Linked DNA regions of Homo sapiens. The protein of the gene in region 2 purifies or fractionates together with the protein of the main gene of each other region. This does not show direct contact. Each region holds a gene or a part of one and is shown on either strand. Other genes may lie near its edges. The genes, in order: HERC4 and H2AZ2.

Evidence for each region.
Region 1: the proteins of H2AZ2 (region 2) and HERC4 fractionate together in Homo sapiens (co-fractionation; one large-scale study listed by BioGRID). This does not show direct contact.

Annotation. Positions count from the first base shown.
Region 1 is NC_000010.11:67,988,284-67,991,783, forward strand, and holds part of HERC4 (probable E3 ubiquitin-protein ligase HERC4), read right to left. Parts: intron 2,917-3,500; coding exon 2,857-2,916; intron 2,733-2,856; coding exon 2,621-2,732; intron 2,118-2,620; coding exon 1,928-2,117; intron 553-1,927; coding exon 380-552; intron 1-379. UniProt on the Homo sapiens protein: Probable E3 ubiquitin-protein ligase involved in either protein trafficking or in the distribution of cellular structures. Required for spermatozoon maturation and fertility, and for the removal of the cytoplasmic droplet of the spermatozoon.
Region 2 is NC_000007.14:44,841,351-44,845,384, forward strand, and holds part of H2AZ2 (histone H2A.V), read right to left. Parts: intron 2,005-4,034; coding exon 1,927-2,004; intron 1-1,926. UniProt on the Homo sapiens protein: Variant histone H2A which replaces conventional H2A in a subset of nucleosomes. Nucleosomes wrap and compact DNA into chromatin, limiting DNA accessibility to the cellular machineries which require DNA as a template.

The DNA.
Region 1 (3,500 bases), on a different chromosome or scaffold from region 2:
ATGTTCATAATTACAACTAGGACCCAATCTCTTTCACAAGATAACCACTTACAGCTAACAAAAACCATATAATGCAAACTAACAAATTATATTCTTCATAAGGAAATATAAGGAGAATTCTAACTCATTAGTATGTTATTGTTCTGCCCAACTATGGATAAGTTATCTATACATGCCTAACAAAGTCAGGTAAGACCAGAGCTCCAAAGGACAGGTTTATTACTTCTTTTAAGAGAAAGTATAGATAACTTTTCCAAATTTCTATAATATGCATTGTTTTTGCCAATCTAAATCTTTAATAGATTAATGTTAAAATGAACAGTATCAATCTGTTAATAGGAATGGGGAAAGAGGAAAATAAAGGAATGATTGGACATACCCTATGTAGTATTTCTAAAACCTTTAATGCAGTATGAAGAAAACTGTTGAAAATTCTTCTTTCAGAAGGGGGAATACCGATCTTGTAGAGTTTCAAAAGATGTACCACAACTTCCTTAAAAAGTTCTACTATCTTGAGGAATAGTGGAGGTTCAAGTACTGACCACCAGTTTTCTGTTATTAAAAAGTGAACATGCAAATAAAATGAATTTTTTAAAAAATCACAATTTTCAAAATCATACTGACTTTTTTTCTGAAACAGTAGTTGTTAAACCTGAGAAAACCCCAGAAAGATGCATATAACACAATATCTTATGTAACATTTGTAAGGTTTATAAACCTCCCCCCGACCAAGTTAAACAATATTGTCCGAAAAGCTCTCAAAAGCAAAAATAAAGTGTGAAAGTCTTGTTGAATTTATATTCTTGGTTTCCTAAGTTATATAAAAAACTCACCACTATACCTAATATTAAAACCAGTTTTTAAAAAATGTTTTGAAAATTACAGTTTCAATTTTTAAACAAAACATCCTTTAAATTGTATTGCTCTAATACTAAAGGATCTTTCTAACTTTTATCTTTCAATTTAATATATGGTTGAAATATTGTGAACCACTACCTTTAAAATGCAAGGTACTCCTGAAGATCAAATACAGAAGCTGAACAATGTAAAGTGTAACATATGGGTCCTTCCCCACATTCACTATTTGTAGTTACTAAGTACAAACACTTCAATCCTATGAAGCAGGCAGAAAGAATACAAAAACTTCTGACAACAGGAAAGCAATACTCTTTTCAGTCCCTGCTTGACTCTTTTTCCCTCAGATTCCCATATTCTACCCCTTGCTTGTTGCTTCCTCCATTTACCCTCAGCCTTAAAGTTCTTGTACTGACATTATTACTTCTATATATCTCAGCTCCACATATCTAACAAATACCATTAGAAAGAAAAGCACTGGGTTAAATGTAGCAAAAAAAGTATAAAGGCCAGGAAATAGAGATAAAATCTAGACAATTAGAAAAATTAAAGTGAGAAAACTTTATGCCAAAAAACCAGAACAGTAAGAGATAGAAGTGCAAGATCAGATGAGCAATAAAATCTAGTCTATAGGCAGAAAAATAAAATCAAATATCATGAAATTAGCAAGTGAAGGAAACACAAGATAAAGGGCTTATATCAGGGTTCCAAGAAGATTTAAAGCCCATGTTTGTTCAGTTTTAATTGTTCCTCCTCCTTTACTTCTTTAATAGCAAGATTATACTAAAGGCGATGAGGGAAAGGAATACGGGTGACAGTTTTTAACTTTCCTAATACTGTCTCTGCTGTTATGTTTAATTGAACTTCTATATCTAACATGTTTTTCTTTCAACAACTCCAACAACTAGAATCAAAAGACTAGACAAAAGCAAGAAAAGGAAAAACAGGTTCATTTTTGCCTAAGACAGTGTCAAATAAGCAGGGCAGCAGAACTGCAAATGGCAAAAGAACTTATGAAGCATTTTCATTTAAAGAGAAAAGGTTTCAAAAGAAAAAATATTAGAATTCTTACCAAGTACTTTCAGTGGTGCCTTTTCTAGGTTCACAAGAGCTGTACCAAAGGGAATTGCTATTGTTGTGAAATTGTTGGAATCACTCATCAGGGGACATTCTGGTAGAGTAAGATAAAACCTCAATGCTTCAACATCAGGTAAGGAGCTAGTCAGTTTAGGAATAAGATTCTTTTCCAAACTAGCTGCCACCTATATTTTGACAAAAAGTAAAACCTACTTCATTTAAAATGAATACACTTTCAAAGAAAAAAAAAAAAAAGGAAGGCAGGAAGAAAAGAAAGAAAAGGAAAATTTTGCACTACAGCAAATATGAAATGGTGAAGAAGAAAAAAGAAAGACAATGTCTTACAATGAATATACTTTGGAGCACAATGAAAATTAATGCCTAAGCATTACTTGGAGAATTTAAAAAATCACGTGTACAAGTCTCAATTTAAACTCTCTACCTCTATAACCATACACAAACTTAAGCAACGTGGTAATGTTAAGTAATTCAGGGTCTGCTTCAAACATCTGAAAAGATTTATAGATCTTTGACAGCTAAATTACAAATGCTTTAAAATAAAATCTTATTTTAAAAGCACATCGTAAGAGTCTGTGAAACTGCAAAGTAAATTAGGCTATAAACGTATAAAACAAAAGAAAACAAAATCAACAGATAATACTGTAAACATAATACTTTAAAAACAGACCTGCTGAGATATCTGCGGATGATCAGGTTGTATAAGTTTGTGGAATAAAAGCCTAGCAGCATTCATATCAACCCCTGAAAATCTGGTACCTGTTCTATAGTGATCATCATTGCTAAAAAACAGAAAAGAAAAAAAAAAATAGAATAAAAATTTAAAATTATTTCATTTTTTAATTTGATATACTATTTAAGACAATAAATTTGAAAATTTCAGCATATTAAAGAATTGCCACTTACCTAACAGCTAAAAAACTTCCATTTAGGCAACCAGAGGAAGAAAACGTTCCATCTATCTCACTAAAAAATTTAAAAAAGTTTTTTTAATCATAGAATCAGAAATTTAATTGTTTACCCTTTCTTAAAAAAGAATTAAAATGAATAATTAATCTAATGTTTAATGCTACAGAGCACTCCTCTAACACCCAATTAGATGAATCAGAATTACATAAATTGCTAAAGACTGATAAAATAATACTTGATGAAGGTATTACTGTTTATTCTAGACTTTCTTAAATATTACTTTCATCCATTTATCCAATGTTATCTGCTTTAAAACATGGTATTTTAAAAATTAAGTGTGTATGTTCATGTAAAAAGTTTTTTAATTTAAAAAAATTTTAAACATTTTATATTGGCAGTGAGCCTAATCTGGGATGCCTTTGGGATTTTCAGAAAAATTATAGTTTTGGAAAACAAGCTAGAGAAACAAAACAGCTTTTCAAATACAACCCATCATCCCAAATACCAACAAAAAACAAATAACATCTTAAGTGCTACTAGGCAAGTTAACAAAATATTCAAGAAAGAAATAATACTCAAGTCTTCCACAAAGTATAAAAGTTAAGATAGTGACCATTATAAAACCAGAAGGAACACATTTC
Region 2 (4,034 bases):
TACCTTCCTCAGATCTTAAATGTTCTTTCTTCAGTTTCAAGAGGTGATCTGATAGTTAAGAAAAATCAATACTATTATCTCATTGTGGTTCTTTCTACTTTCTGAAAAAGAGGGTATTTTTCTCATTTCAAAGTATCCTGATCCCACTTGTCTGTGCCCTTTATTATTTTTTTTATTGAGACAGAGTCTCACTCTGTCACCCAGGCTGGAGTGCAGTGGCGCCATCTTGGCTCACTGCAACCTCCGCCTCCCGGGTTCAGGCGATTCTCCTGCCTCAGCCTCCTGAGTAGGTGGGATTATAGGCGCGCCAGGACGCCTGGCTGTTTTGTATTTTTAGTAGAGACAGGGTTTTGAGTGATCTGTCCACCTTAGCCTCCCAAAGTGCTGGGATTACAGGCATGAGCCACTGTGCCCCGCCAGTCTGTGCCTTTCTTACAGGCCTCCCTCAACCCTTCACTGCTCCATTATTTCAACAGCTACAATTACTTCCTTTCCGCTGGTTCCTTTCCTTCTACAGACTTTACTGAAAACTTCACAATCTATGAAAACTGCTTCCAGTTACAGTCTAGACAGTCTCTTTCCAAAGACTGAATTGAAAAAACAAATCCTGAAACCCTTACTTCCTTGTCACCCATTTTTCCTAACCCTAACTTGACCTTTGAAGGCCAGCAGTGACATTTTACTTCCTTAATAAAAACAAGCAATCTTTTTTTTGCATTTATACTTCATCTCTAAGTGACCAAAAGCTTCTTAAGGGCAAGATTTATGTCTTCTTTTCCTTTGTATCCTTAGTAACCAGTATGTTGTCTGGCATACAGTAGGCCCTCAAAAACATTTCATCTTAGACTTCAGAGTTCTCATACCAAGTCTGACTACTCCTCAGCCTTTTCTTAAAGTTTTTCAGGGGTCCACCAACGTCCCTGTGCTCCTTTCTCATTCTCTTAGGTTAGGAAACTCATCCATAACATAAACTATCCATTTTACATAAATGATCTCAAATTCCTAATTCTATCACCTCTATTAGAAAGCTGAACTCATGTTTCCAACTTCTGGACATTTTCACATGGATGTTTTAGTGAACTTCAAAATGATTCCATTTAAATTTACTCATAACTTGCCCCTACTACAAACTCCTCTGTTCCTTAGGTTCTAAGCCTTAGAGAAACCTGTGACTTTCTCTCAACCTTATACTGCTTCACCTATTTTCTGCACACACATGCTTTCTACTCCTTCCCATTCAAGTATGTTACTTTATTCCTAAACCACTGCAAAAACCTCCATTGGCCTTCCATTTTCTACTTCAAATTAAGTATGCCTTAAAATAAATTCTAATTGGGAATATACATGGAGACCTAAAATACAGAATGTGCATATCAGTTTAAGTTCCCATCCCCCTTCTTTCGGTATCATCTGGATAATGTTGTCCTCTGGCTCAAACTCTCAATGGCTTACCACTGCCAAGAGGATAACAGTTTACAGCTTAGCCTTCCTGATTAAAAGGGTTTCTCAGCCAGGCGCGGTGGCTCATGCCTGTAATTCCAGCCCTCTGGGAGGCTGAGGCAGGCAGATCACGAGGTCAAGAGATTGAGACCATCTTGGCCAACATGGTGAAATCCCGTCTCTACTAAAAATACAAAAACTAGCTGGGTATGGTGGCGCACGCCTGCAGTCCCAGCTATGTGGGAGCCTGAGGCAGGAGAATCGCTTGAATCCAGGAGGCAGAGGTTGCAGTGAGCCGAGATTGCACCACTGCACTCCAGCCTGACGACAGAGTGAGACTCTGTCTCAAAAAAAAAAAAAAAAAAAAAAAAAAAAAAAAAAAAAAGTCTGTAGTAATACAAGTAGATTTTTGTAATTGATGAAACATAGGTCATAAATTACAACAGTAAAGAAAATAATAATGTAATGACAGCATGGATTCATTACCTGTAGCCCAGCTCTCTGTGAGCGAGATACTGCCTTAGCCTTGGCCTTCCCACTGTCCTTTCCAGCTTTGCCTCCAGCCTAAATGCAAAAAAAAATTTTTTTGAATGAAAAGAGTTGAAAATACTACTTCAAAAATATTCTGGAAACAGAATTTTTTCTAGTTTTACTTTAGGTAGTTAACAATATGTAGGTGATCCCCTTCCTCATTTGTAAATATACATGGGATTCTATCACCTTTTATAATTTCTATCAAAGAAATCAAACCTTAAACACTTATTTAAAATATTTTTCTTTTTTCTTGAGATGGAGTCTAGCTCTGTTGCCCAGGCTGGAGTGCAGTGGTGCGACCTTGACTCACTGCAAACTCCACCTCCTGGGCTCAAGCGATTCTCCTGCCTCAGCCTCCTGAGTAGCTGAGATTACAGGCGCACACCACCACACATGGCTAATTTTTGTATTTTTAGTAGAGGTGGGTTTCACTATGTTGGCCAAGCTGGTCTTGAACTCCTGACCTCAAGTGATCCGCCCGCCTAGGCCTCCCAAAGTGCTGGGATTACAGGCATAAGCCACAGTGCCAGGCTGAAAAATATGAGATTTTTAAAAACAAACATATTTATCAATTTCCAGATTAAAGAATCTTGCAAGTCAATATAACTTTTATGCATACATGAAATATTTCACAATTTTTATCAATGTCAATGTAACATATATTACTTCCACAGAAATATTTAGAACTTAGCTCTCAGAAAAATAAAGCATGTTCCAAGAAAAAAAAAAAAAACCTCAAAAAATTAAACACAGAATTGTCATATAGTCTAGCAATTCCACTTCTAGGTATACACCTAAAAATTGAAAGCAAGGATTCAAACAAATACATGTATACCCACGTTCACAGAAGCATTATTCAGAATAGCCAAAAGGTAGAAACAATCTTGAGTGTCCAATGATGGATGAACAAAATGATATACATATAATGGAATAGTATTCAGCTTTAAAAAGGAAATTCTGACACAAGCTACAACATGAATGGGCCTTGAGGACATTATGCTAAGGAAAATAAGCCAGTTACAAAAAAGACAAATACTGTATGATTCTACTTATGAGGTCCCTAAAATAGTAAAGTTCATGGTCAGAAAGCAGATTTGTGGTTGCCAGGGGTAGCTGCCTCCTGGGTTCAAGTGATTCTCCTGCCTCAGCCTCCTAAGTAGCTGGTAGTATAGGTGCGCGCCACCATGCCCTGCTAATTTTTGTATTTTTAGTACCAACAAGGTTTCTGCATGTTGGCCAGGCTGGTCTTGAACTCCTGACCTCAAGTGATCTGCCTGTCTCATCCTCCCAAAGTACTGGGATTACAGGCGTGAGCCACTGCGCCTGGCCGAGTTATTGTTGAATGGGTAGAGTTTCCACTTGGGAAGATGAAAAAGTTCTAGAGGCAGAAGGCAGTGATGGTTGCACACTATAAATGTACTTAATGCCACTGAACTGTACGCTTTAAAAAAACCTATTTCTGCATGAAAAAGGCAAAGTATGTGCCAATGTAATGAGCTTTTAAGTAAATATGGGGTATTATAGAGTATATGTGTACACATGTATTTCTAGTAGGTGACACAATAAATTAGAAATGTTATTTGCCTCTCGGGAGGAAATACTAAAGGTCTGACTTAAGAAAACTAATTTTCTCTCATATATTTTGCTTTTACCATTTAAACAGATTATTTCTTTACTGTTAAAAAAAGAAATCAGTTTACAAGATTGGCTGTTTGAGGGGCTATTCTTTCAAAATAGATGGTAAGCTTTGAAATGGCATATCCCCTTTGTAGCTAACCCTTTCCTTAAAAATTTTTTAAAGCTAAAAATTACCCCTGTATACTTCCTCTAATTGCACGTCTAAGTGGATTAAGTGCGTGTCACCCAAGATAATATGGAAGAAAAACAGTAAAACCCTGGCAGGTATCAGAAACAGGAAAAATAAAAATCTAAGAACTAATTCATATTCACTCTCTTATATTAGGTAATTCAACAAGAGACTGATTTAAGTTTACCAGTAAGAACTGAGACGCTCTCTATTTCTACCAGAATGCCTCATATTTTAATAATTTTTGACTATG